Homo sapiens: one gene and its partners. The protein of the gene in region 7 purifies or fractionates together with the protein of the main gene of each other region. This does not show direct contact. Each region holds a gene or a part of one and is shown on either strand. Other genes may lie near its edges. The genes, in order: YBX3, LYSMD2, WAC, VRK1, LOXL2, NNT and SLAIN2.

What was found.
Region 1: the proteins of SLAIN2 (region 7) and YBX3 purify together in Homo sapiens (affinity purification with mass spectrometry; one large-scale study listed by BioGRID and IntAct). This does not show direct contact.
Region 2: the proteins of SLAIN2 (region 7) and LYSMD2 purify together in Homo sapiens (affinity purification with mass spectrometry; one large-scale study listed by BioGRID and IntAct). This does not show direct contact.
Region 3: the proteins of SLAIN2 (region 7) and WAC purify together in Homo sapiens (affinity purification with mass spectrometry; one large-scale study listed by BioGRID and IntAct). This does not show direct contact.
Region 4: the proteins of SLAIN2 (region 7) and VRK1 purify together in Homo sapiens (affinity purification with mass spectrometry; one large-scale study listed by BioGRID and IntAct). This does not show direct contact.
Region 5: the proteins of SLAIN2 (region 7) and LOXL2 purify together in Homo sapiens (co-immunoprecipitation; one study listed by IntAct). This does not show direct contact.
Region 6: the proteins of SLAIN2 (region 7) and NNT purify together in Homo sapiens (affinity purification with mass spectrometry; one large-scale study listed by BioGRID and IntAct). This does not show direct contact.

Annotation. Positions count from the first base shown.
Region 1 is NC_000012.12:10,709,824-10,713,323, reverse strand, and holds part of YBX3 (Y-box-binding protein 3), read left to right. Parts: coding exon 1-113; intron 114-2,535; coding exon of another isoform or gene 2,536-2,565; exon of another isoform or gene 2,566-2,973; intron 2,974-3,209; coding exon 3,210-3,416; intron 3,417-3,500. UniProt on the Homo sapiens protein: Binds to the GM-CSF promoter. Seems to act as a repressor. Also binds to full-length mRNA and to short RNA sequences containing the consensus site 5'-UCCAUCA-3'. May have a role in translation repression.
Region 2 is NC_000015.10:51,734,856-51,739,143, forward strand, and holds the start of LYSMD2 (lysM and putative peptidoglycan-binding domain-containing protein 2), read right to left. Parts: upstream 2,801-4,288; 5' UTR 2,768-2,800; coding exon 2,495-2,767; intron 2,208-2,494; exon of another isoform or gene 2,085-2,207; intron 1-2,084.
Region 3 is NC_000010.11:28,609,618-28,613,117, forward strand, and holds part of WAC (WW domain-containing adapter protein with coiled-coil), read left to right. Parts: intron 1-1,081; coding exon 1,082-1,204; intron 1,205-1,637; exon of another isoform or gene 1,638-1,864; intron 1,865-2,156; coding exon 2,157-2,305; intron 2,306-3,500.
Region 4 is NC_000014.9:96,879,746-96,882,109, forward strand, and holds the end of VRK1 (serine/threonine-protein kinase VRK1), read left to right. Parts: intron 1-1,431; coding exon 1,432-1,463; 3' UTR 1,464-1,864; downstream 1,865-2,364. UniProt on the Homo sapiens protein: Serine/threonine kinase involved in the regulation of key cellular processes including the cell cycle, nuclear condensation, transcription regulation, and DNA damage response.
Region 5 is NC_000008.11:23,366,121-23,369,620, reverse strand, and holds part of LOXL2 (lysyl oxidase homolog 2 precursor), read left to right. Parts: intron 1-1,186; 5' UTR 1,187-1,269; coding exon 1,270-1,624; intron 1,625-3,495; exon of another isoform or gene 3,496-3,500. UniProt on the Homo sapiens protein: Mediates the post-translational oxidative deamination of lysine residues on target proteins leading to the formation of deaminated lysine (allysine).
Region 6 is NC_000005.10:43,648,180-43,651,679, forward strand, and holds part of NNT (NAD(P) transhydrogenase, mitochondrial), read left to right. Parts: exon of another isoform or gene 1-3; intron 4-967; coding exon 968-1,129; intron 1,130-2,297; coding exon 2,298-2,408; intron 2,409-3,500. UniProt on the Homo sapiens protein: The transhydrogenation between NADH and NADP is coupled to respiration and ATP hydrolysis and functions as a proton pump across the membrane. May play a role in reactive oxygen species (ROS) detoxification in the adrenal gland.
Region 7 is NC_000004.12:48,418,029-48,421,528, forward strand, and holds part of SLAIN2 (SLAIN motif-containing protein 2), read left to right. Parts: intron 1-2,096; coding exon 2,097-2,415; intron 2,416-3,500.

The DNA of each region.
Region 1 (3,500 bases), on a different chromosome or scaffold from region 7:
CTGCCAATGTGACTGGCCCGGATGGAGTTCCTGTGGAAGGGAGTCGTTACGCTGCAGATCGGCGCCGTTACAGACGTGGCTACTATGGAAGGCGCCGTGGCCCTCCCCGGAATGTACGTTGTCTCTGTTACTTAACCAGTGATTGAGAAATTGTTCATGCATGGAATTAAGTGTATGTACTTGGAGCAGATAAATGCCTTGTCTTCTCCTGGAGACAAATGATTTAAGTGATTTTTATTTTTTCTTTAGAGGAAATTTTTATCTTATTTTTTAAAATGTGTATTATTGATTTCCATAGGTTTTTGGGAAACCGGTGGTGATTAGTTACATGAATAAGTTCTTTAGTGGTGATTTCTGAGATTTTGGTGCACCCATCACTGGAGCAGTATACACGGTACTCTTAAGGGGAAATTTTAGCGCTCAGAACTTTTCCAGAGCCGCTGGTCTCATTAGACACTTGCCATTCAGAAGTTGTATCAGTTAGGATATATTTGGCTACAAGTAATAGACATTTAATTATCTTTTAACAGGAAGACTTAAGGGAGACAGTGCTGAGGTTTTTTTTAACAAGGTTTCTCTTCATTTGGCTCTTTTTTCTGGCCAGAACCTAGTCACAGACATTCACTGGCAAAGGGGAATGGATTTCCATCATTGACTTAACCTTGTTGTTCATTCTTTGGTGCCGACACTGTTGACCTCTAAGAAAATCAAAATTTGGTTGGTGAAAGAGTGAGAAATAACTTGTGAACAGGCAATAAAAGTACAGGCCACAGAACTATTAACGAATTTGCCTTGGTTAAGAGGCTGTTTTATTTAGCATAGCATTTTTCCATTATTTCAAAGTAAAGAAGCAATAAGTGATTCTGTGGATTTTTAGTTCTTTAGGTTGGTTTCAATGCAGGGGAAAGAGTTTGTCACAAATCTGGCTGGAGCTTTCTTGGGAGGCTCAGTTTATAGGAGTATTCTCAAGGCACCCAAAACGGACCCAGTATATTTGTGGTCATGAGAAACTTACTAGATTTGAATCATTCTTGGTGTTTCTAGAATTAGAACCAGGTATTGGCACATTGAAGAAAACTCCGAATGTTTGTCAGCACAGGATTGTGACTGCCTGTCTCATCCAAAGAAAAACTCATCAGAATTAAATATCTGCAGATTGAGAATGACCTATCTTTATGTTTTGATAGCTTTATATCTTTCTGTTTACCTAAATGCTTTTCCTCCTTATTCTGCCATCATCACATCCTGCCCAAATTAATTCTGTCAGATTCCTTAGGACTTCCCACTTGTTTCTTTGTTTTTGCTTATCTTATTTGGTTTTTAATAAGCTATGAGGGGGATAGCTAGGAATGAGCTGCTGTAGCATTTCCTACATCATGTTCTCTTTGAAGTTCATCAGAGTCACAGAGCGCTAACTGTGATTATTTTGACTCCCAGGTTAATTCAAAAGCAAAAGTGGTAGAAAAACATTCAGTGAAAAATTTTTCTTAAAGACTTTTCCTGTCCAAAACCTGAAAATTCCAAAGTCATGCATATAAAAGATATTTAGAAACAAAATTGTTAAAACGCTTAAGAAACAAAATTGTTAAAACTCTTAAAGTATACATAAATGAGCTTTTTTGTTGTAATATCTAAGTCCCAACAACTTGTTCAGTATCTCTCAAAAGAGTGTGTTCAGCATTGCTGGTGCCATTATTATGCTTTGTAAAACTCTTAAAGATTTGATTGTGTGAAATGCAAAAGAGGAAGATAAGCCCAAGAAGAAAAACAGTTTATGTTGTCTCACACTTAATATTTTGGTAAGCATTTTCTGTGCAAATAAACGTTTACATAATTGTGAATCTCATCTTTGGTAGAGGTTTTATGAAGAGTAGAATGACTTGATTTTTTTTGAAGTTAGACTAGTTGAGGCTTTTTTGGAGGGGGAGTTTGGTTGCACATGTGGACTTGTTCTGGAAGGGTCCAAAGCTTAAATACACTCCTGTAAAAAAAAGTAATGGGTCATTATTTTGCTTTTTTTATTTATTCATTTTTAAAAACTAGTTACTTCCCATTAAAGACATTTGCATATCCCCTTTAAAGTAAGACTTGAAATCACAGTCTTTGTAGGATGTTTGGTTTTTTAAAATGTAAAATGGTAGTATATGATATAATTTAAATAGAAGAAAAATATAAAATGAATCGGTAAATTCCTTTGTGAATATTAATAAGATCTATTATTTAGAAACCTCCAGGATTAGGGCTTACTACCATCAAAGTATGATTAAAGCTTTACTCCTAAACATATAAAGGGAGTCATGCCTTAGGTCAGTGGTTCTCAAACTTCCTGATTTTGGGATCTGTTTATATGCTTACATGTTATTGAGGATTCTAGAGTTTTTGTCAATGTTTATTTATATTAATATTATATTAGAAAGTAAAATAAACTTAAAATGTTAATTGATTAAAAATAACTATATGTTCATGAAAATAACAGTTTTTATGGAAAAAAAATATTTAAATTGAAAAGAGTGGTATTGCTTTATACTTTTGCAGATCTCTGATGTATGGTTTAATAGAAGATAGCTGGATTCTCACATCTGTTTCTGCATTCAGTCTGCTGAGAGACCACATGTCATTGTAGCCTTTGGGAGACCCCACCATATACTTCTGAGAGAATGCCTGGGAAAGGCAAATAGCATCTTAGTAATATTATGGCAATAGTTTGACCTCGCTGACCCCCTGGAAGTTTTCAGAAATCCCATCCACACTTTACAGACTTGTAGGAAGAATACCACTTGGGTCAAATATGTTGGTAACATCATAAAATGTATTCTTTTTTGGCTTTTCCCTGACATTGCCTCAGTGGATGGTAAATGCTGGGAGACACGCATTTGATGGAGCAAAAATTATAAACCTTGCAGATACTCTTCGGGTGGTTGGTTAGCTGATACGAGTTCTAATGAGATGACTATTAAATTGATTGTAGATTGATTGCTCTTGCTTTTCTGCTTCTTGGTATTTTATCTGCACAGATCTACTCTAATCTTAATGTAGTTTATCCCAGGCAATCACATGATAATCTGGGTTAAATGCATTTTGTCTGTATAATGGAAAGGATTATATTGCTTTGGGGAGATTTTATTTTGGTGATATTCATCCTAAATGGTGTTCTTTGGTTCTTTCCTTGCTAAAACTTCTTCTGAATCTCTGTTTCTTTGCTTCGCTAGTACGCTGGGGAGGAGGAGGAGGAAGGGAGCGGCAGCAGTGAAGGATTTGACCCCCCTGCCACTGATAGGCAGTTCTCTGGGGCCCGGAATCAGCTGCGCCGCCCCCAGTATCGCCCTCAGTACCGGCAGCGGCGGTTCCCGCCTTACCACGTGGGACAGACCTTTGACCGTCGCTCACGGGTCTTACCCCATCCCAACAGAATACAGGTAAAATTGCAACTGAGACTTCTCTTCAGCAATCCTCACCCTTCCGTCCTTCTCTGCCTCCTCTTCCTCCTCCTCCTCCAACAT
Region 2 (4,288 bases), on a different chromosome or scaffold from region 7:
TCACAATGAGTAAACCTAATTAATATCTGCAGATATTAGACCAGTGCAGTGGCTCACACCTGTAGGCCCAGCACTTTGGGAGGCTGAGGTGGGTGGATTGCTTGAGCCCAGGAGTTCCAGACCAGCCTGGGCAACATAATGAGACCCCATTTCTACAAAAAATACAAAAATTAGCTGGGCATGTGGCTTGAGCCTGTAGTCCCAACTCCTCAGGAGGCCGAGGTGGGAAGATCACTTGAGCAGCGGCAGCTGAGGCTGCAGTGAGCCATGTTAGTGCCACTGCACTCCAGCCTGGGTAACAGAGTGAGACCCTGTCTCAAAAAAAAAAAAAATCTGAAGATATTAAAACAAGAATATCACTTCACTGTTATGGTAAGTATTATCACTTTCACTGATTCTATATTACCAGTGGAGGAGTCTCTAAAAATTTTATCAACTATAAGCCAGGGCCCAAAGTAATGAGAAATACATGTAATAAACCAGTGGTCCTCAACCAGGGGTAAATTTGCCTTCTAGAGAACATCCGGCAATGCCTGAATAGGGGTGGGAGAGTGCTACTGGCATCTAGTGGGTAGAGGCCAGAGATGCTGCTAAATATTCTACACTGCACAGGACAACCCCGTGCAACAAAGAGTTATCTGGTCTATAACATCAACAGTGCTGAGGTTGGGAAACCCTGTAATGAACTATGTGTCACTATCAATTATAGTTCCTGATTCATTATCCTTGTGTTTAATATCTTAAAATCAAAAGTCTTTATAAAAGCAACGAAAAATCTGATCTACACTTTAATTTTAAAAAGGGGTAATGAGGTTATGAGTAATAGGATCTATATTAGACATAACAGGGATTAGAAAGCATTTGATCAAAGGTGGAAAACTGCAGTAAACAGATGTATAAGAGTTATCTATAATCAACTCAAGTGAAACCACAGACGGCTGTGGGTCACAGAGAGATTGCACGGGAAGACAGCATGGGAAATAACACTCTTCTGCATGTCATAGATTTTTAGGTGCTGTCACTAGCCTAGTAAGGCAAGATGCCTGAAAACCAGATAGAAAAGACTGTCCTCCTTCAGTAGCCAGGATGCTGAGAGAGCTCCTGATAAGACTAAGATAAAAATAAGGATGGATATCAAAAGTAATATCTAGAGGAAAGCAAATGCTTTATCACTGTTAATTCAAGCTGGTCTCAATGAATGATCATACTTGGAAAATATCCTTACCTCTCATCCATCTTCTCATCTGTAAAAAGATTAATTACACCTACCTCCTGGGCTTATTGTGAAAGTTAAATAAGATAAAGATGAAACAAGACAAACGCAATGCCTGCCACACAGGAGGCATTCAGCAGAGGGTAGCTACTGGTATTTCCCAACTTCGCTTTCCTCTGCCTCTGACTCAAACCAGGCCCCATTAAGGCACATAGAGAATTGTAGCTCTATGTTCACATGTATAGAACTCCCAAGAGGGCAGAATGGGGCTCTCCATGGCATGATAGAGTCAATACATGACTGCACAGCAAGGTCCCTTTCAAAATATTTCAAAGATAGAAGGACCTGATAGGTAAACATATACCGGCTTAAATATGCAAAATACATTCTCCTTCATACTGATGCTCCTTCATTCGGTAAAGGGCCAGAAAGAGTTTCACTTTAAGGGAAAGATATAGATAAGATCCTCTTTCTTCCCATTGCTGTCTAAGGTGCTTCAGGAAAGAACACTGAAAACTGATACAGATCCCAAATGTAAAAAGGCCATCACATAGCTCACAGTTAATTATAAGTAATTTTAATGAAACAATTTGTTCCCTCAGGTTTCCATGTTCTTCCCAGAGGTGTAATGCTATACACCCAAGACACACACACTTATAAATTTGTAATAAACGCAGCCCTCCAGCTCACCACAGTTCTTGGCTGCTGCTTAGCGACAGGTGTCACATTCGCGGTTGCCAGTGAGCCCAGAGGGTGTAATTTCACTTCTACATAAAGAAGCATAATCGATAGAACCAGAACCACCCAGTAGGAACAACTGCACCATTCCTGACTCATCACGGAGCTTGTTTTCACAGACAACAAAATTCACCTCAGTTGGGCTTTGCGTAAATATAGAGTAGTGTGATGGGGCCTGCAAATTGGGTGAAGGTGGTTCACGGGGATGCCAAAGCCCTAGTCCTCTTCGGCCTCCCTCACGCGACAGATCTAGTCTGAGCCTGGGCGGGGCACCGGGAACTCGATGCAGCTACCTAGGGAGGGAGCCCTGGCGGTCCGCCCCTCCCGCTGCAGGACCAGCTTTGGCGACCACTGCGGTGGCCAGCAGCGCGCGCTGAGCGAGCCCTGGGAGCCGAGCCGCCCGGGGACGCACGGCCGTCCCTGCGACTCCCCATCCCCCAAACCCCCACCCGCAGTCCCACCCCCACCCCCACCGCACCCCGAGCCGCACCGCCTCCTGCGCGGTAGCTGCCAGCCCGGGCCGCGGCGGCGCGCCCTGCTCACCGTGACACCGTACTTGAGCGCGATGCCCTGCAGCGTGTCGCCCGCGCGGACCCGGTGCTCCACATGGCGCTCGATGACGCCGGCGCCCAGCGGCGCCCGCACGCTGGCGGTGCTGCCGTACGAGCGGGTCTTGGTGCGGGCCAGGCTCAGCGACAGCTCGGCCTCCTCGGACTCGGAGCCGGAGCGCGAGCGCGGCGGCGGCGAGGGGGCCGAGGGCCGCGGCGCGCGGGGGCCGCCTTCCCGCAGGGACAGTGCGGGCGAGGAATCCGCCATGGGTCCTGCCGAGGCCGCCGGGTCGGGGAGCTTGCCAAGGGGGCGGCGCCTCCTCCTCCTCCGCCGCCGCCGCCGCCTCTTCCTCTTCACAGGGGCTGCAGCAGGCCGTTCCGCGGGGGCGGCGGACGGGAAGCCGAGGCGGGGAGCCGCAGGCCGGGCATGGCGGGCGCCTCCTCCTCTGCGTCCTGCCTGCCCCGGGCGCCCGCGGCACACGCACCTGCAAGGTTAAGAGCGAAAGCAGCTCCCGCCGCGGCCTGCCGGTACCGGGAAGACCCTGCAGAGCGAGGGAGCCGGGGAGCGCTGAAGCCCGCGGCCGTTGGGGCTAAGAGAGGGCTATCTGCAGGCGTCCTAGGCCCCAGGTGGACCCCTGCTCCATTGGCGATAGAGCCCTGGCAGAACCCTGCCCTGGCCACGGCGAAAAAAAAAAAAAGCGTTGCTCTGCCTCCTTTATTGATTCCCCAGCAGGAGCCAGCTTGCACAGACCTTCCAGCTCTGCCAATGCCAAGGGTACTTCCCTCCCCCCACCCCAGTGACCTCAAAGTCCACGTCACAGTAAAACTTAAGATCATCAAACACACACAGACAGCTTCTCCAGGTCCATCTCAACAGCCTCAGAGTCCAGTCCTTTCAACATTGCACTAGGAGGGATAGTGCTTCTAAGGCCTAATGGGTGGCCTCAAAATAACCCCCCTAGTTGTTCGGGTTTCACACTTTGTACACTAGTGCCAATTTAAGTCCTGGCTGCCTCGAAAGGCTGGCCACATACAATTCATTCTCCAGGCTCAGTAGTTGGAATTTACTGTCTGCATTCATCTTCTCTTCGTCAGTTTATTCTTTGACACCCTGAAATCGCATCTCCCTGCCCCGTATTGCTATTAATATTATAACCACCAAAGACCTCTTATCTGTACTCTTCATTTGAACACCGTCTACTCTTGAACACCCTTTCAACACACTGTATTATACACAGAGTGGGTACACATTTACTAGCATCTAGTGCCTGGTTTCTGTGTTATTTTGGACAGCTTTCCAAGAAGAGGTACCTTGTAGGAAGGTCCGGAGCCTGGGGGTTTGATTCGTTGGCTGAAGTTTTGGTATGTTGCTGTGCTGGACAGAGGCAAAGCTAATATTGCTCAGGAGAGAAAGGATGGGAGAGGAGCAAGCTTCCACAACACCATCCCACTCAAAACTCCTACAATGGCTCTCTGGGGACAACAGCATTACTAAAAACCTACATTGGCATTCAAGCTATTATTTCTATTTTTATTATTCATGGTCTGACCATACCCCATCTATAACTCATTCTGTATACTCTACATATTCCTGCCAAACAGAGCCTCTGAAACTGGCCTCCTTGTTCCTACTTTCATACCTTGCATGTTATTCCCTCCAATGGTAACACTCTTCCAGTACCCTCTATTACATTGTTTAAATCTTTAAGGTCTGTCTCAAATGATACATCCTCCATGAGATTTTTCCTAATTCTTCCCAATGGTCCCTTTTTCCCACCTGCCCAACTGT
Region 3 (3,500 bases), on a different chromosome or scaffold from region 7:
GTGGCTCATGCCTGTAATTCCAGCACTTGCTGAGGCTGGTGGGCCACTTAAGCCCAGACCAGCCTGGGCAACATGGTGAACCCCATCTCTACTAAAAATACAAAAACTTAGCCAGGTGTGGTGGTGAACGCCTGTAGTTCCAGCTACTTGGGAGGCTGAGGTGGGAGAATAACTTAAGCCTGGAAGGTGAAGGCTATGGTAAGCTGTGATTGCACAACCCTGTCTCCAAAATAAATAGTTGAAGAAATAATAGTTAATGTCAATAATAAAATATCTTACACATCAAAAATACATGGTATTCCTAAATACTTTTTTTTTTTTTTTTTTTTTGAGATGGAGTTTTTGCTCTTGTTGCCCAGGCTGGAGTGCAGTGGTGCAATCCCGGCTCACTGCAACCTCTGCCTCCCAGGTTCAAGCGATTCTCCTGCCTCAGCCTCCCTAGTAGCTGGGATTACAGGCACCTGCCACTATGCCCAGCTAATTTTTTGTATTTTTAGTAGAGACAGGGTTTCACTATGTTGGGCAGGCTGCTCTTGAACTCCTAACCTTAGGCGATCCACCTGCCTCAGCCTCCCAAAGTGCTGGGTGTGAGCTACCATGTCCGGCCAATACTCCCTTTTTTGTATCCATTTTTAGATTTATTAGGGTGGATCTTGATATAGGATTTGAATGGCCAGCTTGTCTAAAAGGGCAATCACATGAAATAGCAGTTGTTTATCCAGTTAATTCCATATAACATACTGAACACTCACATATGAATAGGTTTCTGACATAATTGGAAGTTCCTGTGAACACTCGTTAAATTTTGTAGAGAGACTTTGTTCAGGTGATCATCTTAATTAGTGTAAAAGAAACTCTGTTGGTTTACCTTTATTGTAAACCCATTAAGTTTCTTTTTCTCTGCCTCAGATCATTTCAAATTTGGGACCCATTGTATTACTCCTATCTAGTAGGCTTTTATTTTGAGAGTTCTAGGTTGAAATATTCCAGTTTCTTGTGAGTTCTCTTCCTTGTCAGGTTGTTACTAATGCCACATAAGCCTCTTGTTTTTATATGAATGTATGAAATAATATGTTTTTAGTTCTTACAGCAGCTGTGACACAAGCCTCACTGCAGTCTATAATTCATAAGTTTCTTACTGCTGGACCATCTGCTTTCAACATAACGTCTCTGATTTCTCAAGCTGCTCAGCTCTCTACACAAGGTATTCTTACTCATCTTAGATATCTCTAGAATGGCATCTTGATTTTGTTTTGGAATTAATAGCCCTTTTTTGTATTTAGTTTTTTCTTTCATTTTTTTTTTTAGTTTTTTAAGAGATTAGCTACAATAATTTTGTTTTTTTTGTAACACTGGCATATACAGTAGTATTTTTATTTCCTTTCTTTTTAGATGAAGCAAGCTTTGACATTTGTCTTAAGGTATTGCCATCAAATCTGTAATTATTTAAGACAGTATTTAATTCAGACTTTGTTATTAATGAGTTTTTTTATGCCAAAGCTGAAAGTAAACTATGATGTGCCATATATCTTTGTGAAACATTGCATGTATTTGAAGAGTTGAAGTTTGGTTCAGATTGACGTTAGATGTTTTTTGACTGGATAATATGGAAATGCTCATTTTCTGCCTTGAATTAGATATCCCTCTTCATGAAGGTATCCAAATGGAGAGAGATACACATAGGAGCAAATGGGAAGTGAAAGGGTCACTTTGTCAGAAAGCTGATAAACAGCAGGAATGCCTTGTCTGGAATGGAAGTATAATGGTGCAAAGACTCTTGCAACCCTCTGGCTAGCCTCATGAGCAGGAGACTGCGTGGGATACCTGGGCCTAAATGTAGAATAAGAAAGAAGAAATAAGGATGGTGAGGAGGCCTTCCATGTGAGATTAGGTTCAGGCCTAGCTTCCTGTTCCAGCCACATAAAGGAGAGTGGGCCACACTGGGTGTGCTTACCTCTGAACACACAGCTCACTTAGTCAGTGTGGCCCAGTGAGAAGGTCAGATTCTGATTTATTCCAATAAGTGTTCTCTGGGTAATATGGGGGTGGGGGGGTTTAGAGTAATACAAATATCTTTGCCACATATATTACAAAGGACTTTAGTTTTTTGTTTTGTTTTGTTTTTCTTTAAAATTAATTGCTTCCCTCTTTTACAGCCCAGCCATCTAATCAGTCTCCGATGTCTTTAACATCTGATGCGTCATCCCCAAGATCATATGTTTCTCCAAGAATAAGCACACCTCAAACTAACACAGTCCCTATCAAACCTTTGATCAGTACTCCTCCTGTTTCATCACAGCCAAAGGTATGTCACCTTTGAGGGACATTCGGAAAAGAAACTACTTACTTTTGGAAAGTCAATAACATTTTAGAATCTGTTATAGAAAAAGCCCTCTGAGAATGAGGTGTAGTGGTGGAATGAATGACAGGTATGATAGTAGATGCAGCCTAGAATTTCTCAGTTCACTGAGGGATAGAGGGGGGCTTTGAATCTGTGCTACTTTAATAAACCATCTGAGTCTGTTCCCTAATGGTTTTGGGATTTGTCACATGGAGAGTGAGATAAAGAGGATATACTGAGTCTTAATATTTGTAGAATTTTCAAACTCCAAAAGACATGAATGAACATGTTTTCCAGTGACTTTTCCATATTTGTATTTCAAAAATGAGGCAGTTTCTGTGCTAAGAACTTAATGTATGTTTAGCTTTCACATCGTGAGAATCACTTGCTTTATTTAATAGATGAGAAAATCAAACTCTCAGTTAAGTTTTTGTGGTAGAGTCAGAATTTGAAACCTAGGTGTTTGTGAATACAGGGACCCATTTTACTAAGCTTATATTGCCTGTATTTGTCCCAGCAGAATCTTACATGGTTGGCTCCATAGGTGCAGTTAGAAAATTGCTGGTCTAAATGGTAAATGTAGGGGGAATTTCTTTTGAGTAGTTTTGAAACAGTGGGCTGTTTCAGACTTTTTAATGCCAAATAATTCTTTGTAAGATATTAAGCAGAAGCCCAAAAATAAAAATGCATTGAAATATAACTTGAAAGAGGTGGTTGGTCAGCTTTTAAGTCTTCCCGTTTGTTCATCCCTTCCCTACCTTGGCCATTGATCATTGCATGTTTTAGGGTCAATTTAGATTGATTTTTAAAATTCCAAGTTACAGTTGTTAGTTTATTATGCAGTTCCTTATCATTTGCCAGTATTTTAAGGAGGAAAGAATTAAAATGTGAGTTTTGGCAAAAGAGATGTTATTTTTGGAGCTTAGAACTTGTCTTCAGGGTGGCATTTTAAGAGTATAGTAAATAGTGGTTAAAAGTGAAATAAGTGGTAGTATTGGTTTTATAGTCACTTGTAAACTGAGCATTTCAACTCCTTTAAGAAGGCTGGGCGCGGTGGCTCACAGCTATAATTACAGCACTTAGGAGGCCAAGGCAGGAGGATTGAATTAGGCCCTGGGCAATATAGCAAGACCCCATCTCTACAAAAATAATTTGAAAA
Region 4 (2,364 bases), on a different chromosome or scaffold from region 7:
TGGTGAAAGTCTAAGTCCTACTAAAATACAAAAATTACCTGGGCGTGGTGACAGGCACCTGTAATCTCAGCTACTCTGGAGGCTGAGGCAGGAGAATCACTTGAACCCAGGAGGCGGAGGTTGCCTGAGCCAAGATCGTGTCACTGCACTCTAGCCTGGCAACAAAGCGAGACTCCCTCTCAAAAAAAAAAATAATAATAATAAAAATAAAATTTCTTGAAATAAAAACCTAAAAATCTACTGTGGGATATTTTTAATAGATGGCCGTGTTACAGAAATTTAAGAAAAAAACTCAAATTTTAGAATCAATCATAGTACAGTATATAGGGTATGTATTATGAGTGGCAGAAAAAAGGATATTCATATAAGCTTGAAATTTGCTTTCATTGAACTGTATGATTGAATAGAAACTATAACTTGGAAAAATTAAAAATGCTAGTTTTGAAACTGACCTTCATGTTAAGTAACTAAAACCCATGATCAGAAAACCTTTAGATACACATGGTAGAATTTTGTTCCACATTCAAAGAATGTTTCGTACTTTTCAGAAAAGAAGTATTGATCTTTTGTTTTTTTTCGTGCAGTCATTGATTAATTATGAGCACCATGCTGTCCCTGACTCTGGTGCCCCTGCTCTTTCCTGGCAGAGCGTAGCATGCGGCAGTGGGAAAGAAATGGCCCTGCTTCTTTCACCAGCACTAGGCAGCCGTGATCAGGCTAACTGCTGTACCCAGAGGTGGAGTAGGAGTAGTAGGTGGGGTGAAATGTCTTGGTGAGGCAGAATTCCCATGCCCCCAGCAGAGAGTCATTGATTTATTCCAAACCAGAATAGTTAGATAGGTACTGTCATAAAGGACTTAGACCAGTATCACATATGATCCTTTTCCAGGAGGCTACTCATTTGGGACCTGTATAATTCCTAGCGGAAAAGACTTTCCATTTCAGTATATCCCAGTGCTCTCCTGCCTCAAGGGTGTAGCTAATAGTCTTTAAAAAGCAACTTATTGCTTTGCTTTTCATAACATGTGTGACCTCATCGCTTCCACCTTAGGAGTGAATGCTTATCTATATTGCTAAGGTTTATATTTGGAGATAATGTTTTAAATTTTACAACAAATTTAAATTTTGGAGAGAAATATTTCAGTATTAGTAAAAATTAGATACGTTTTATCAGTCAGTATTTTTATATGGCTTAAGAGAAGGTAGGTTTTGTCAGCATATTTTTTGACATATTAAAAAATGACCCAATTTTCTAAGATTTTCAGAGTATTAGCAATCATACCTTTGTATGTCAGTTTTATCTTTGCAAATCACGAGAGTCGATTTGATTTTAAAATGTTAATAACTATATTTAGGGATATTTATATTTCTGTTCTTTTGCTTTTGTAAATTATTGACTAGTGATTTCAGTTTCTTTGATTTTTCTTCAAGGTTCAAGAACCAGAAAGAGAGTCCAGAAGTAATTCAGATGCTGTGAACCAGATTTCCTTTTCTTTGTTTTCTTTTGACTTTTTTCTCCTTTTCTATTTGAACTGTTTTATTTTCCTGTGAGTCTTGCGAGGTGGAAGTAATGATTAAATACTCATGTGTTCAGAAAACATAAACTTTTTTTATAAAAATATTTTGTACAATTCATTAAAGGCTAATTTATGAAATTTGAAAATCTTCAGGTTATACTCCTTAAGTTATCCCAAAGCCGTGTGTTTGTGATGTTTTGGAGTACATATATATGAAAATTATTATGACACGCACTTTTCTAATCATTGTACATTTCTCAGAGTGGATAAAAATGTTTGACAAAGTCCTCACTTTTAAGGAAATGCAAAGCTTAAAATAAAACTCTCTTTTGTTTGATGCAAACACACAGTATGTTGTGGCTGTAAGGTTTGGTTTGTATTGATTTTGTTCTGTTCCCAAAATCTTTTATTAAACACCTGCTGTATGAGACAGGAGGTACAAAGACAGGAAAGGAATATGAAATAAAAAGTGGAGGAAGCGTATCCATGAGAGAGAAAATCTACATATATGAAAGATTACATAAGAATTATGTCAGTATGCAAGCCGTATGACAAGAAAACAAGTGACAGATGATCAAATGGTGGTGTGATTAAAGATTGTGTAAAGACTGGCTTCATCTACGGAAGTCCTATGAACTAGATATTAATAGATAGAGCCTATTGTTCATTCACAGAAGTTTATTTTTCTTAAAAGTTTCACTTTCATAGCATGTAATATTTATACAGTAAACCAAGCACTTCAGAGTTTCAGTGATCAGAAAGTTTAAGATCTGAAATGTTTTTAGTTGCCTTGGGAACAGAAGCTTGTAATTTTAACACATTTATGAACAATTTCATGATTCATTCC
Region 5 (3,500 bases), on a different chromosome or scaffold from region 7:
TGGTCACCCAACAGACATGGAACTGCCTCACTCCAAGGCAGATCATCCCTCCATGGGCAGCTCTGGACAGCTCTGACTACAGGAAAGTTAGCCAGTCCTTCCTCAAAGGTAGTGTGCCATGACCAGAAGAATATGATTAGCCTACTCCTCTGCATAGGGTTAAAATAAAATACCTTATGCCCCCACCTAAGCTTCCACCTGCTCATCCTGGTTTGGGGCCCTGCATGTTTCTCCACAAGACACACGTGTGCTCCTTTTAAAATCGTCTCCTCTTTTCTCTGAATTACGGGAGGACCAAGATACACGAGGTCTCTTGCTACATGATTTCACTCGGGAATTCTTAGAGGTAGGCTCCACCAGATACGATGACCAGGACCTTGAGGATTTTAAAACTCATTTAGCATTGCAGCCCTCAAAGCTGACGGGAAAATTATAATTCATCTAGCAAATGTTCCTGTAGTGTTTTGGGGTGCCATTCATTTAATGGAGGGTGGGTGTGTTGAACATCCTGCCCTCACCCCTTCAGACCCGCTCCTTCTCCACCGGCCCCCATGTTCCAGGAGGCTGTCCCACACGGGCTCCCTCAATGGGCTCAGCTCCCTTGCCAGTGGCTTCGAGTTGAAGGGGGCTGGGTTTGCCTAATAGGAGGCACCAGAATGATTCAAAGACGGGAGGAAAGGGAGTCAGGTATTTATTCTCCCTCCCATGTCCCCGCCGTTGCCATGGGTTGGCTCTGAGACCCTCCAGTGAGGGCCACAGCTCCTAAGAGACAGCTCCCTCTGCCAGTCTCCAGTTCTCACCCCCGCAGGCTCCCTTCAAGCCTAGGGTGGTCACAGCCCCCTCTGAGTCGCCAGCCCTAGGGTGTGACACCGGCCTTTGTTAGTTCTGCAGAACTCTGCCGGCATGTCCGTAGTCTTAAAAAACTCTCCTTAAATTAAGTTGGAGTGTGTTCTGTTCCCTGCCAGGAACTCTACTGGAAAAAGCATTCTAGAGAGATGACAAGGCAGTAGGTAAAGGAGGTGGGACCTCCCAGCCCTGCATGGTGGAAATGTAGGAGTGGGGCTGGATTGGCGTCGAGAATGGACGAGCTTTCCATATTAAGCCAAGGGGTATGAAATCGCTGGTTCTCTATGTAGGTCTCCGTAGCCCCACGTTCCCATCCTAACGCATCTCTCCTCTCTTCCAGAAAGCTCCTGCTGCTTCTGTACCCCGCCTGTCCCTCCCAGCTGCGCAGGGCCCCTTCGTGGGATCATCAGCCCGAAGACAGGGATGGAGAGGCCTCTGTGCTCCCACCTCTGCAGCTGCCTGGCTATGCTGGCCCTCCTGTCCCCCCTGAGCCTGGCACAGTATGACAGCTGGCCCCATTACCCCGAGTACTTCCAGCAACCGGCTCCTGAGTATCACCAGCCCCAGGCCCCCGCCAACGTGGCCAAGATTCAGCTGCGCCTGGCTGGGCAGAAGAGGAAGCACAGCGAGGGCCGGGTGGAGGTGTACTATGATGGCCAGTGGGGCACCGTGTGCGATGACGACTTCTCCATCCACGCTGCCCACGTCGTCTGCCGGGAGCTGGGCTACGTGGAGGCCAAGTCCTGGACTGCCAGCTCCTCCTACGGCAAGGGAGAAGGTAAACGCTCTGTGCTTTGGATCTGAGTGCTGTCACCTGGCAAGGCCCGGAGTGGCCTTCCCTGAGGTCAGCCTGGGAGAGGAGGCTGCACGCACTGCGAAGTGTAAATTCTTGGTGATGCCCATCCAGGGACTGGCATCCTTCTGTGCCCACTCAGGCTGCACCCTGCAGGAAGGCGGGGTCGGGGGGCTTGAGGAGGGGCACAGTAAGTGACCAACCATACTGATTTGCCCAAGACTTTCCTGGCTTTAGCACAGAAAGTCTCACATCCTGGGAAAACCTCAGGAAAACCAGGACAGTTGGTGACCCCAGGTAGGGGGTGAAATCGGCCTGTGCTCCTCTCTCCGCCCCATATGCCCTGCCTGGGGGCTGCGTCAGCCCAGAGGAAGTTGCGCTTTACTCCAAATCGTTCCCTGTTAGGAAAGCCTCTTGCTCTTCCTCACAATGGCTCCCACATGCTGGAGCTCCCTGACGCCCCCCACCTTCCTGGCATGTGGAGTTCATCGTTTTCACACTAACCTGCTATTGTGGGCTTGGTCACAATAGGCACACAGATGCTTTGGGTTTTTCACCGTTGGTTAGCCTATTCTTTCCTCCCTTGTGAGGTTCAAATTTATTAGTTTATTTTTAAAAATTGTTTTAAGAGCTGGCCAGGCGCAGTGGCTCATACCTGTAATCCCAGCACTTTGGGAGACGGAGGCGGGATGATCACTTGAGGTCAGGAGTTCGAGACCAGCCTGGCCAACATGGGGAAACCCCATCTCTACTAAAAATACAAAAATTAGCCGGGCATGGTGGCGAGTGTCTGTAGTCCCAGCTACTCAGGAGGCTAAGGCACAAAAATCGCTTGAACCCGGGAGGCGGAGGCTGCAGTGAGCCGTGATCGCGCCACTGCACTCCAGCCTGGGTGACAGAGCGAGACTCCATCTCAAAAAAACAAAAAACAAAACAAAAACCCAAAAAATTGCTTTAACAGCTTTGAGGCAGGACAAAGTTTGAAGCCCTGAACCTAGAGCTCAGTCTGTACTGACCTCTGACACCACACTTTGTAGGAAGACGCATGTCCTCTCCAGCCTCATTTTCCCCATCTGGAAGTTGGGCTAAGAACCCCTGAAACCCTGACAGTGTATGTTCCCAAATAGGAAAGAGATAAGGGTGGAGGGAATTGTTTCTTTTTAAACATTTTTCCAGGAGCTAAGAGTTTCCTATCTCTGGGTCAGCCAGGCAAAGGAAGCTCCCACACCCTCCCGCCCGGCTGAGCTGCAGCCCAGACCTCAGCACAAGTCTGGCTACTGGACTAAAGCAGAGCTGCCTATACTCCTGTCCTGGACTAAAGGGCTAATGCCATGCTGACTGCGTAAGAATCGCCCAAGGGAGCTTAAAAGTACAGAATAGCGCAGACCTCAACCCACCATAATCTAGTTTAAAAGGTCTGGGCTGGAGCCCAGGACTCTGTCTCTTTTGGAAGTCTGCAAAGTGACAGGTTTGGGAGTCATTGAAATTGATAACTGTTATCCTCCCTTCCAACTTTTCTGTTATTCTAGAAATTATAGGAGAAAGGAAGTCCCATCTCATACACATCTCACCTCCATGCAATTGAAAATTTCCTTTTGGGGTAACTGGATCAGGAGACAGCACAGAGTCAAATGTTCTCTGCAGCTTGCTCTGGGCGATGAGAGCCACAGCAGTGAAGTTAGCAAATGCTGGGCTTTAGAACCCACTTCCTGTCTTCTTTAAACAAACGTCCGATACTTCCACATCTCTGTTTATCCGGCTGGCTGAGCGATCCAGGGGTAACCTCAGATTCATGTTTTCCATTCCAGGCTTTCCAACGCTCATTATTTTATAACAAATGCTTTCCAGTGACTGGGTATTT
Region 6 (3,500 bases), on a different chromosome or scaffold from region 7:
TGGGTAGGAAAATAAATTAAAACTACAGTCATATTGAATGATTTAATGTAAAATTAATGTCAATCCCTAGATATTCCAGTGGTGCCACTTCCAAAGTAATAGTTTACATCAAGGAAAAAGGTACCTTATTCAGGAAAGTTAACTTCTAGTTCCCTGGTCACCCACTGTCATTTTCTTTTTACTGACCACTAGGTAACACTTTCTTCTGTTGCAGAACAACTGTCCACATGTTTGCTATCAAGGAAGGCGATAATTAAAGATGTATGTTCAGAGCTGTTTGTATTCTGCACATTCTTAATTTAATTTGTATTTTTTTTCCTTTTGTTTGTAAAATCCTGTTTGCTGACTTGGTGTTGAGGCTGGAGCTGACTGCCCTGGCCAACAGTCCAGTCCAGATTCAGGAGCAATTGCAAAATTTGTGTCCCGGGTGGGTGGAAGCCATATGTTTTGGGGAGGTGCTGGAGTGAATGAAATTCTTCCTACTCTTTTAAAACCCCTATTCCTCAGCCAAATCTGAGAGTGACATAAAATTGCCTTCATAAAAGTCTTGTCTTATAAAGGTTGTGTCTTGCCCAAGTAGAAAATGCTTTGGTAGATCCTCTGTAGGCCTGTAATCGGGAATAAAAATGCTTATATAAACACATGTGGCATTGTTAATAAAAGTTAAAACAGGGAAGAGGACAAACTACACAGAGGAAAATGTGCAAATTGTTATTAGTGTGACTCATAAATATTACTAGATCTTTATAGCTTATTTTGGGGGGGTGGTCAGAAAGTTGGGTTTTGTCCACAGTATTCCTCCATCCCCCCACTTCTCAACTGTCAAATGTCTAAAAAATCTGCTCATTACTGGCAAGGGAGTGGAATTTAAAAGCATTGGCTATTCCACATATTTATGTATGTGCTTTTAATCTTACTGAGATAACTGGATGTCAGCTCAAACACACTCTTTACTCTCTTTCTCTAGGTCTCACAGGGATACTGGGTTTGGGCATTGCGGCTCCCAATCTAGCCTTTTCTCAGATGGTGACCACTTTTGGCTTGGCTGGCATTGTGGGGTATCATACCGTCTGGGGAGTGACCCCTGCTCTCCACTCACCACTGATGTCTGTGACAAATGCAATCTCAGGTTTGTTCCTCTCTTGTTTTTCCTCATCTCAGGTTTTCATAGGGTTACTCAGCTCTAGGAGGACTATCAATGCCGTTTATAAAGTGTGTTTTCAAGTTGTTTTGCTTGGCATCTGAGTCATCTGCTTTGGTGATCTAAGGGCTCCCAGACTCTGAGAGGGTATGGGATATGGGCCTGCAGAGTAAGAGGCCGTGGGAGTGTGTCAGCTCTTTGGGCTGCTCCCATTTCAAGCAGTGCAGAGCCACTGTTATTTCTTCCAAGTTTGATCCTTTTTTTTTTTTTTTAAAGAAAAGGATTCCACTGATAAAATTTGAAAACCAGTGTTCCACAGAATCATAGCTGCAACATCCTATAGGGCTCTCCTTGGATTCAACTCAGCATTCAGCCTAGCAAGGCTACAATAGGCCCCATGTGGCATCAGGTTCACCATGAAGCTATGGGACAGGAAAACACAGCTTTCCAGTGAGGTGGCATCAGGCATTTCTCTTTGGTGCCGGTCTTTTCAGCAGTTCATGCAGCAGTCCATGTGGTTGCCCAGGATCTATTCTCTTTGTCCCCTAGCAATGGGTCAGATATGAGAGAATGAGTCCTACATTGGACAAGCATAGGAGCTGTCCTGGCTTGAAAGCCTCAGGGCCAATAGTCATCTTTTATAACATTGCCATAGGCACAGCTTCGAGGATCTCTGCAGGGAACATGTCTAGCTCCAAGAGGTGCTGTAGTCAGGAAAACCCAAAGCTAGGCATCCCCAGCAGGCATTTACAGTTCATGAATACTTTCTTCCAGTTTACATGCAAATTATCTACCAGGGTCACTTTTTAACCATAAGCAATGTTGTCTATAACACTGGTGGATTTATATCTGTATTAGAGGAACATCGCTAGAAAGTTAAAAGAAAGTCCAATTCCAATGCAGAAGGAGAAAAAGTTTTGTTAACCCTTTTCCCACAGTAGTAATTTCAGTGAGAATGATGTGAAGATGTGTTGTCAACAGTCTGCATAAGCAAAATTGTTTATTTCATTTTAATGAGGGTGTAAGAAAGCTGCCTTGTTTTTTAATATTGAGAACTTTACCCTCTATGAATCTATGTATGTGAGGTACTTCAGCTATGATATTTGATTTGGTGGTGTCACTATCACTATTAACCATGTTAATGCTTTCTTTCTAGGGCTGACTGCAGTTGGTGGGTTGGCACTGATGGGAGGACATTTGTATCCTTCCACAACTTCTCAGGGCCTTGCTGCTCTTGCTGCATTCATATCCTCTGTCAACATTGCAGGTATGATGTCAGTGAAAGGTCTCAGTACTATTTTCAATGGAGACATACAAAGCAAATATAAATCCATATAAAATAGACATAATTGTGCCTTCAAAAAATGTTTCACTCTGACCGTAAATGCTCTTTTTGCAGGAAAATTAGTTATTTTGCCCATCTGTAATTTTTAGAAACTCTTGATAAAAGAACAACCCCCAGATCCCCAAAACAAACAAACAAAATGATGTCTTGCTACAAGTTAACTGGAAAGTTATTGAATGCATAGTTTTGAAGTTGGGTTAGAGCTATCACCGTAACATCTATAAATTAGTATAATTTTAGATAAAATTTTAGTCTTTTGCCTTATCCCAGCCAGGGTTTGTTACTGGAAACTGAAAGCCTAGCACATCACTCATGTGTGAGACTCATTTGATGCTATTTTGTAGCTAACAATTCTTTAATGTGTCCAAGAAACCTGGTGCCTGTTGATATGGTATTTTTTTCTTTTATAATTTATTATAGGGTTTTACAAATGTAACAACCTACTAGGAAAAGATACCAATCTTTGATCTTTCACATTCTCAAGCTTTTTGAATGGCTTTTTTTTCCTTTTAGTCATGCAGAAATAGTTTTGCATTCTGATAGCAAGTTTTCTTCCTGAATATATTTAGTGTTTTTTCCCCCACCTCTCTAATGGAACTGGCTTGAGTAATAGAATGACTTTAAATTTTGGCTGGGCACGGTGGCTCACACCTGTGATCCCAGCACTTTGGGAGGTCAAGGCGGGTAGATCACCTGAGGTCAGGAGTTCGAGACCAGCCTGGCCAACACGATGAAACCCCCCTCTCTACTAAAAATACAAAAATTAGCCCAGCATAGTGGCGCGAGCCTATAATCCCAGCCACTCGGGGGGCTGAGGCAGGAGAATAGCTTGAACCTGGGAGGCGGAGATTGCAGTGAGCCAAGATCGTGTCACTGCACCCTAGCCTGGTCAACAGAGTGAGACTCCATCTCAAAAAAAAAAATTTGAGGTTGCAAAATGTTACTTTAAATTATATTTGTTCCTAGGTGATAAAGATGTGCTTAAAACAGAAAAATTGTAGCACTTTAAAAAAT
Region 7 (3,500 bases):
GACAACCATGGGGACAGTTTCTAACCTCTGTGCCTTTTATTATTATTTCTTCTTCTTCTTCTTCCTCTTCCTCCTCTTCCTCCCTCCTTCCTCCTTCTTTCTCCTTCCTCCTTCTTTCTCCTTCCTTCTCCCTCTTCTTCTTTTTTTTTTTTCTTGTTTATTGCACTGGCTAGAATTAGTGGTAAGAGCGTATGTTCTTGTCTTGTTCCTGGTCTTAGGGGAGATGCATTCAATCTTTCTTCATTAAGTATAATGTTAACTGTAGGGTTTTTGTAGATGTTCTTTATGAGGTTGAGGAAATTTTCCCTATTTCTGTTTTTCGGAGAACTTTTTTCATGACTGTGTTGAATTTTGTCAGATGCTTTTTTTGAGTCCGCTGTTACAATTCTGTGATTTTTCTTCATCCTGTTACTGTGGATTACACTGATTGATTTTCAAATATTGAACCAACCTTGCATCTTGGAATAAATCCTCCTTAGTCATGGCATATAAATCTATTTATATATTGCTGGATTCTATTTTCTAATATTTTTTTAAGGATTTTTACATCTATATTTGTAAACAATATTGATCCGAAGTTTTCTTTTTTGATACTGTCCTTTTCTAGTTTTGGTATCTCAGTAATACTGGCTTCATAAAATGAATTGGGACATGTTCTTTCCTATTTTGTGACGGAGATTATGTTGAATTTGTGTTCATTCTTAAACATTTGGTGGAATTTCCCAAGGTTGCTCCCAACCTCCAACAAACATTTGTTCTGCTGCTTGTTACCATAAATTAGATATGACTTTCCTCAAATTTCTTTATAACACAACATTCTACAGTGTGTGTGTGTGTATGTACACACGGACTGTTTTGTGTCTGGCACTCATTTCATTCAGCAAAATTTTTGATATTCATCTTTGTTCTATACATCAGTAGTTTACTCCTTTTTACTGCTGAGCGGTATTCTGTTGCGTGGATATGCTACAAATTGTTTATCCATTCATGTGTTGATGGACATTTGAGCTTTTTTCAGTCTTTGGCTGTTACAAAGTTGTAGTCAAGTCTTTGTGTGGACATAAGCTTTTTTCTGTTTTCCTTTTTTTTTTTGAGACAGAGTCTCGCTCTGTTGCCCAGGCTGGAATGCAGTACCGCGATCCCCGCTTATTGCAACCTCCGCCTCCTGGGTTCAAGCAGTTCTCCTGCCTCAGCCTCCCAAGTAGCTGGGACTACAAGCATGCACCACCACCCCCAACTAATTTTTGTATTTTTAGTAGAGATGGGTTTTTCACCATGTTGGCCAGGCAGGTCCCGAACTCCTGACCTCAGGTGATCCGCCCGCCTCGGACTCCCAAAGTGCTGGGATTACAGGTGTGAGTTACCACGCCTGATCTTCTTTTTTCTTTTTGAAGCAGAGTCTTGCTCTGTCACCCAGGCCGGAGTGCAGTGGCATCATCTCGGCTCACTGCAGCCTCTGCATCTCTGGTTCAGGCAGTTCTCCTGCTTCAGTTTTGAGTAGTTGGGATTATGGGTGCATGTCACCATGCCCAGCTGCCTTTTTGTTTGTTTTTTCATCATGTTGTGCTTTGTGAAGCACAGCAATGGAAGCACTTTTTAAAAATGATTTTTAGTTTCTAAATTTTTAGTTACAGTGTCAGTAATATGGGATTTGGACATAGAGCCTCCAGATACTTGATACATGTTTACGTGAATGTTTCTTTTCAGGGGAAATACATTTCAAATTCTAGACAACAGTTGGGTAGTCAACCTGTTTTTCACCTCTAGAATGTTTGTTCATATGTGGCCCACATTAGTTGCTACTGTGAGACAGAATCCTGCAGTGCCTTTTCTCTTCTGGTATTATGGATTCCAAGCTGGCCTATTTAAAATACTGTTGTCAAAGACAGTTGTAATCCTCTAAGTACTTGGTCATTTAGAACTCACAGTTACTTTTTTTCTTTTAGTAGCCCAGGAATAGCTTTTATTGTTTGCATTGCTGTGAAGTTTCCTGAATACACATGTACTAGTGCCCAATCATCAGTTGTAATTTAAAGCAATGGTTTCATATATACAGATTTCCACTCAAAAATTGGTTTTTCTTTGCCATCCCACAGTACCTTCTCCAGGCAAATTCCGTTCCCCTGCAGCACCATCTCCTTTGGCTCTTCGGCAACCAGTGAAAGCATTTAGTAACCATGGCTCTGGTTCTCCTGGTAGCCAAGAAATAACACAGCTCACACAAACCACCTCCTCACCTGGGCCTCCTATGGTTCAGAGCACAGTCTCAGCAAATCCTCCCAGCAATATCAACAGCGCTACTCTAACCAGACCTGCAGGGACAACTGCAATGAGAAGTGGCTTGCCCAGACCCAGTGCCCCTTCTGCTGGGGGCATACCAGTGCCTCGCAGCAAACTTGCACAGCCTGTTCGCAGGTAAGTGGCAGATGTTCTGTTTCAGCATTCTTGAGTGCCTGAAAGTGGATAGACTGGAATGAATTAGCTTCATCCGTATGTTTGATAGTAAACAGAAAGTCATGGTGGATTCCCACCAGAGTTTTAGTACCATTTGAATAAAACTTTACTACATTGTTTTTAAGAAATCCTCATTTGGGACTTTTACCAGTTTGGTTCAGATTAAATTTGTCCAGTTGCCTAACGTGATTAAGCATCTCAGAGGACCCCTAGAAAAAAAATTGTTAGAGCCTCTCAATTTGATTGTGATATTCATTCATTTCGAATATAATTATATTCAATAAAGATGATAAAGGTATATTAGAATATAGAGTGATATTTAAGATAAAACTTCTAGCTACCAAGTCTGAGTATAATCTATAAGCATGGTTTTCAAACCCTTATTCTATAATTCAGAATTATCTGTGAGATTTATATAAATGTAGGGTGTAAGTTTTACCTTCAGAGAGTCTAACTTAGTAGATCTGTTATGAGGCCCAGAATCTGTGGGTGTGCTAGGTATTTTGTTGTTGTTTTTTGTTTTGTTTTTGTTTTTGTTTTGTTTTTGTTTTGAGATGGGGTCTTGCTTTGTCTCCCAGGCTGGAGTGCGGTGGTGCAATCTTGGCTCACTGCAGCCTTGACCTCCCAGGCTCAAGCAATCCTGTCACCTCAGCACCCCCTGTAGCTGGGACTACAGGCGCACACCACCATGCCTGGCTAATTTTTGTAGAGATGGGGTTTTACCATGTTGCCCAGGCTTGTCTGGAGCTCCTGAGTTCAAGTGATCTGCTTGCCTCAGCCTCCCAGAATGCTGGGATTACAGTTGCTGGTTTTTTTGTTTGTTTGTTGTTTGTTTGCGTAATCTTCAGATGATTCTGAATCAGACAGGTTGGGAATGATGCATCTGTAACCTTTCAAGAATGGGATTACCACCATCAGTAAACTTTGGTGTCAAATATAATTAAACTGGAAATATTTATCACTGTGCTAAATAAGTAAATGCTTGCTTTGTTTAATCTTCATAATAATATTAAATGAGTAGGTATTCTTATTTCTATTTTTCAAAA